Linked DNA regions of Homo sapiens. The protein of the gene in region 1 purifies or fractionates together with the protein of each later gene. This does not show direct contact. Each region holds a gene or a part of one and is shown in the gene's direction. Other genes may lie near its edges.

The links.
Region 2: the proteins of DPY19L2 (region 1) and LDLRAD4 purify together in Homo sapiens (co-immunoprecipitation; one large-scale study listed by IntAct). This does not show direct contact.

Annotation. Positions count from the first base shown.
Region 1 is NC_000012.12:63,563,994-63,567,493, reverse strand, and holds part of DPY19L2 (probable C-mannosyltransferase DPY19L2), read left to right. Parts: intron 1-3,500. UniProt on the Homo sapiens protein: Probable C-mannosyltransferase that mediates C-mannosylation of tryptophan residues on target proteins. Required during spermatogenesis for sperm head elongation and acrosome formation. Also plays a role in acrosome attachment to the nuclear envelope.
Region 2 is NC_000018.10:13,221,760-13,225,259, forward strand, and holds part of LDLRAD4 (low-density lipoprotein receptor class A domain-containing protein 4 isoform alpha 1), read left to right. Parts: intron 1-3,500. UniProt on the Homo sapiens protein: Functions as a negative regulator of TGF-beta signaling and thereby probably plays a role in cell proliferation, differentiation, apoptosis, motility, extracellular matrix production and immunosuppression.

The DNA of each region.
Region 1 (3,500 bases):
AAATTAAATATACATGTAGCACAAAAATTGAGTAAACTGTGGAAATGTACGATTTACTAGAAATAACCCAATTTAAATGGTAAGTAAATCATGATATGTTAAAGATGCTTGTTGTCATCCCTATCAAAACCACTCAAAAAATAAATAAAACAGTGGGGAAAAAAAGAGCATAATGGCAAGCCTAGATATGGATAAGCCTGGATACATTAAGTGAAATAAGTCAGCCACAGAAAGATGAATAGTCCATGTTGTCACTCATGTGGAAGCTCAAAGAAGTAGCTCATAGAAGTAGAGTAGAATTGTGGTAATTAGAGGCTGAGTGGGAAGGGTAGGGAGGAGAAGAAGATAAGGAGAGGTTGGTTAAGAGATACAAAACTACAGATAAATAGAAGGAATAAATTATAGTGCTCTCTGGCACTGTAGAGTGAATATTAGTTAACAGTAATTTATCGTTATATGTCAAGAAAGCCAGAACAGAGGATTTTGAATGTTCCCAGCACAAACAGATGGTAAACGTTTGTGGTGATGGATAGCCTAATTACCCTGATTTGATCATTACACATTGTAATTATGCATTGAAATATCACTCTATACTCCATAAATATGTACAAGTATTACTTGTCAAGTAAAAGTAAAAGGGGAAAAACCCTAAACATATAACTAACCTAAGACCCAGCAATTGTATTGGGCATTTTTTCCCAGAAAGGTGGAAAGTTGTGTTCATACAAAATTCTGTAGAAAAATGTCTATAGCAGCTTTATTTGTAATAGCCTAAACCTGAAACAACCCAGATGTTTTTCGCAAGGTGAATGATTAAATAATAGTGATCTATTCATACCATGGAATACTGCTCAGCAATAGGGTCAAACTATTGATACACTCAAGATCCTGGATGAATCTCCAGAGAATTGTTTGAATGAAGAAAAGACAATCCCCAAAGGTTACATACTGTATGATTCCATTTGTATAACTGTCTTCAAATGACAAAATTATAGATATGGATGATTTGTGGTTGCGAGGGGTTAGGGTGGGGTGGGAATGTGGGGGGAGTATAGTATGTGTGGCTATACAAGGGATCTCTGTGGTGATGGAAATGCTCTCTTTCACCATTCTGTCAATGTGAATTATCTGGCTGTGATATTATACAAATGTTCAAAATGTTACCATGGTGGAGGACACTGTCTAAAGACTGTACAAGAGCTACTTGTATTATCTCTCACTTAATGTGGATCTCCAAATGTCTTGAAATAAAAAGTTTTTTTAAAAAAACAAAAGAGCACTATAGCAAGCCTATATCAAACCATATCAGTAATTTCAAAGTGAAAGAGGACTAAATTCTTCCAAACAAAAGGTGGAGATTGGCAAACTGAATACAAGAGCAAAACCTATCTATGGACTGCCTGCAAGAGGTGCATTTTAAATACAGATATGTATATTGGCTGAAGGAAAAAGAATGGAAAAGATATCATGTGAGTAAACATTAGAAAAGCTGAAGTGAAAAATGTATGAATATCAGAGAAGATAGATGTTAAGACAAAGAATATTACTAGAAATGACTATGTTTTATAATGCAAAATAGTTCAGTACAGGAGAAAGATACAATAATTTGAGTGCATATGAACTTAAAAGAGAATTTCAAAATATATGAAGCAAAAATTGACAGAACCCAAAAGGCAACAAACAAGATTAACATGGAATTATAAAAATCACTCAATCCAAAATAAGGCAGAAGAAGTGGAAAAGGGAGATGAAGATCAGATGGAACAAAGAAAACACTGAGATGACAGACTTAAATCTAACCATATCAATTATCACATTAAGTGTAAATGGACTTGTGGTAGGCTGAATAATGAGCCCCCCACGATGGCCATGTCCTAATTCCCAGAAATTGTGAATTACGTTACTCACATGGAAAAAGGAAATTTGCAAATGTGATTAAATTAATGCTCATGAGATGTGGAGATTATCCTTATTATCCAGGTAGGACAAATGTAATCACAAAGTCTTTATAAGGAGGAGGCAAACGAGTAAGAGATCAAAAAGGCGATGTGATGGTAGAAGCAGAAGTTGGAGTGATATAAGGCCACAAGCCAAGGAAGGAGGCCAGCTTCTAGGGCTGGAAAAAGCAAGGAAGTGGATTTTCTTCTAGAGCCTCCTGAAGGATTGGAGTCCTGCCAATACTGTGATTTTAGACTTACGAGCTCCAAACTTTGAAAGAGAATAAATATATGTTGCTTTAAGCAACTGTTTGTGGTAATTTGTTATAGCAGCAATAGGAAACGAATATAGCTCTAAACACCACAAATGAAAAGCAAGAACTGTCAGATTGCACAGCAAAGCAAGACCCTACTATAGGCTACTTTCAAGAAATTTACTTAAATATAAAGAAACGAAGAGGTTAAAAGTTAACAGATAGGAAAAGGACATGTGATGCTACTACTTGTCAGTGAAAGCTGGTGTGACTGTAATAACATCAAAGTATATTTGAATGCTAAGAATATTATCAAGGTTAAACAAGGATTTTTAAATGAAGAAGGGATCTATATTTCAAGAGGATGTAGCAACCCTGAACATTTATGCACTTAGATAACAGAGCTTCAAAAATATGAAATACAACTGATAGAACTTTAGGAAAAATAGACAAATCTACAGTATAGTTAGAAATTTTAATGGCCTTCTCTAAATAATTTGTAGAACAAATAAAAAGAAATTTGGCAAGAATATGGAAGACTTGAATGATGCCATCAACCAATATGACCTAATTGACATTTATAGTACATACCACCCTAGAACAGCAAAATAGACATTCAAGCACACGCAGACTATTTATCAAAAAAGACCATTTTCTAGGCCACAAAGCAAGTATTGACACATTTAAAATACTTTAGATCATGTAAAATACAATCTCTGACTACAATGAAATTAAATTAGAAATCAGTAACAGAATTCTATATGGAAATTCCCTCAAATGTTTAGAAACTAAGTAATACACTTCCAGATAATCCATGGTCAAGAAGAAACAAAAGGAGGGTTAGTTTCAACGTATGTTGACCTAAGGGAAGATGAGAACACCATCCCGCTATTTGTGGGATGCAGATACAGCAGTAGGGAGATTTGTTTTTATGTTGAATGCCCATAATAGAAAAAGAAGAAAGGCCTCATATCAGTCACTCAGCTTCACCTTAAGGAACTAGAAAAAAAGAATAAGTAAACTCCAAAGTAAGGAGAAGAAAAGAAAGCATAAAGATTAGAATCAAAATCAGTGTGTATTTCCTCCTAAAACAGGGAAAAGTCAGTAAAACCAAACACTGATTCTTGAGAAGATTAATAAAATTGATAAATTCCTACCCGAACTAAAAGATTGAAGACAGAAATTACTAGTATCAGGAATAAGAAAGATTTTATCACTACAGGATCTGAAGAAATGAAAAGCATAATGAGGGAGTTTTGGGAACAACTTTATTCCACTAAGTAGGACAAAATAGATAAAATGGACAAGT
Region 2 (3,500 bases), on another chromosome or scaffold:
AAAATGGTACTTTGGCCTTTTAAGCTGTTTTTGTGAAGACTTTTCTTTCCACCAAGCTTGTTTTCCAGATAGGTCTTGGAGATTACAAAGAACATAGATATAATTTCTCCCTTGATTGGCAGCTGCGAGCTTTCCCGGACAAAAATAATGCTGCACTGTGCCAAATGGTTGACTTTTCTAGAATAAAAACTCTAAAGGGTATGCAAAAAGTCCTCTGGTTAATATATTGGCATTCCCAGAACCCACTAACACTCCGGCAGCCTGCCAGACTCCACTTAACGAGGACACAGAATGTCTGGCTCAATCCCCATGAGCAGACGGGGGTGGGGTCTGGATGTCCACACCCTTTATTAATTTTTAATGACTGTACTTTTGTTTTGCAGATTTTCCTCTGTACCCCCTTCTCAACCGTCTCCTACAACGTCACTCCCCCCATCCATTTATTTACTCATTTACTTGGCATCGGAAAAATGTCGAGCTGTTCAGGGTTAAGGATCCTGCTGAGGGATCATTTCTGTTTGCATGGGTTCTTTTGTTGTTGGTTTTTTTTTCTTTTTCTTCCTTTTTTTTTTGGAAGAGGAAGAGAGAAAAGGAACAGAAAAGATGACAACTATTTTTTTTTAAGGATGCTTTATTGTCTGCTGGAAAAAGAGAAGCATTTACGAAACTTTAAGTTTGTCAGACAGTTTATGTGACAGTGCAAGTTGGTGCTTGCCAAGCTCCAGACAGATTGTTAATGTTACATGACAGGGATAAATAAATTACCGCTGTCTGCAACACGCTTGCACTGCAAACGCACTCTGCAGCCGGCGGCCGGCTGGGCGCCGCTCATGGGCCTGGTGTGCATGCAGCTGCGCAGAGGGCCTCTGCCTGCCGCCTAGAATTCTGTGCCTCGGTTCGGAAATGAAAAGGGTGTGCCTTGCTTTTATTTTTGGCTCTACTGCAGGGCAGTAGAATCCAAGGAGCAACTCTGTGTCCTTTATTTTGCTAGGCTGCTCCGCCTCCTCCCCTGCCCTGGCCCCACCTCTGGTCCACACTCCCGTTCTTCCTCTGAGCAGGGAAATCAGGCACCTAGCTTCTTCCCAGGAGACCTCAACTTTGTTCTTAGCTGCCCAGGGCCTAAAGTATCTCAAAGCCAAGTTTCAAGCTGTTTACAGTTGTGTTCTTTCTGCAGGTGCAGACACTGAGAACAAATTGTCTACGATAGATAAGGCTGTACTGGCCTGGGAGGGCCTGGGTGGCACTCCTTGGGCATAATGTACTTTCATCTGGGCAATTTGGAAGCTCAGCTGGCAGAGTGACAGGTGTAATGAACTTAATGGTCTTGCCCTAGTTGTTTGCGGACACACAGCTCATGTTACAAAGCCACCTCATACCAGGGGCCCCTGCCAAATGATTTGCTCTTCTCTTTGTGGATGGGACTTGGGGACTGGACGACTGAGTGGCGTTAAGGTAGGGAAGGGGGTGGGTGTGAGTGATGTGTGTTTGCCCTCATCTGCTCTGTTCCTAAAAGGACCTAGAGAGTCTCCTGAAAGTAGGCCTTGAGAGAAAGAAATTCTTCCCACTCACACTGGCTAGCCATCCTCCATGCCAGGTGTCGCGAGGACCCTCTGCAGATGTGCTTCGACTTCCTGCCTCTGGGGTTTGCAGAATGGCAGGCAGGCTTTTTGCCACACTGTGTGGCTTCCTGGTACACTGCTGGCCTGGCTGCTGGGATTCTTCAGAAGAGGGCTGGGCCGGCAATGCACAGCCAGGCATTGTTCTCGGAGTCCGTGGCCCCAGGGGCCAGCAACCTGTGCACAGAGCTGCAAGGGAATTTCCATTGGAAAGTCTCTCTGCTTCCGAAGGCAGCCGCTGGAGAGGCTGTAGGAGGCCAGGCTGCTTTCCGAAGGGCTCCCTGACCTCTAACCAGGGCACGTGGGCAGATAATAATAACAGCAGCTCCAAGTGCTTCTGTAGCCTCTCCTGTGTGCCAGGCTCTGTTCTGAGGGCTGCCATACACTGATTCACTAATCTAATCCTCACAGCGGCCCTGTGACATGGGTCCTCCTGCCATCTGCATGTTACAGAGATGTCAAGACATTGCCCAGAGTCACCAACTTGTGAATAAAGGGTGGAGCAGCCTGGGCAGTATCGCTCCAGGTTCTGGGATCTGCCTCTGGAGCTAAATGAGGTGGGACCTGGGTCAGGGATTCTTCATCTGGGACCACTTACTGGCAGGGTGCCATTCTCTTCTTGTCCCCATACAGGTCCCACTGGGACTCTATCCAGCCAGCAAGTTCAGGGTTTTGTCCTTCTTGCCTCCGTGCTGTAGCCCTCCCTCCCCAACTCCCTCCCCTGTTTTTAATCCTAATCTCTGCTCTCTGCCTGTTTTACCTGTGGCAAGAGCCTCAGTTATGAGCACTGGACCATGGCAGCTTTGTCTCTGTCCACCTTATCCCTTGAGTTCCTTGAGAGAAAGACAAAGCAACAGTCAGCAGGAGTGCTGGTATTGCCAGATATTTCTTCTGCACTGGTCCTTAAAACCACTTCCATCAGCCTCCCCATGGCACCTCTGGGTGTAGCCTGGTGGAGTGTGACTGCCCGGTTCCTGGGAGCAGCTAACTGCCTGGGTCTGGGGGTGTGTGCTGGGAATGCCCCCACCAGCTGTCTCTTCACTCGGAGGGATCCAGTTCATCCCAGGACAAAGAGCACTATAGTTTCTTTCTTTCTTTCTTTTTTTTTTTTTTTTTTTTTTTGAGACGGAGTCTCGCTCTGTCGCCCAGGCTGGAGTTCAGTGGCGCAATCTCGGCCCACTGTAAGCTCTGCCTCCAGGGTTCATGCCATTCTCCTGCCTCAGCTTCCCGAGTAGCTGGGATTACAGGCACGTGCCACCACGCCCGGCTAATTTTTTCATATTTTTAGTAGAGACGGGGTTTCAGCGTGTTAGCCAGGATGGTCTTGATCTCCTGACCTCATGATCCGCCCGTCTTGGCCTCCCAAAGTGCTGAGATTACAGGCATGAGCCACTGCATCTGGCCTACAGTTTCTTTAAAAATGAAAAAAAGTTATCCCATCTTTAAGAGTCTCTCTTTTTTTTTTTTTTCTTAGATAGAGTCTCCCTTTATTACCCAGGCTGGAGTGCAGTGGCGTGATCCATCTCAGCTCACTGCAACCTCCGTCCCAGGTTCAAGCGATTCTTGTACCTCAACCTCCTAAATTGAGTAGCTGGGATTACAGGCATGCACCACTACACCTAGCTATTTTATGTATTTTTAGTAGAGACGGGGTTTCGTCATGTTGGCCAGGCTGGTTTCTCACTCCTCACCTCAAGTGATCCGCCCGCCTCAGCCTCCCAAAGTGCTGGGATTACAGGTGTGAGCCACTGCGCCAGGCCAAGAGTCTCTGTTTTGCTCCATGAGGTATAGGTAAATGAATCATGCATATTGACGTGTACGTCCTATGAAATGTTGTCCACCTTGGACAAGCTAAATCTTTGAGATTGTGGGACCTAAAGGGAG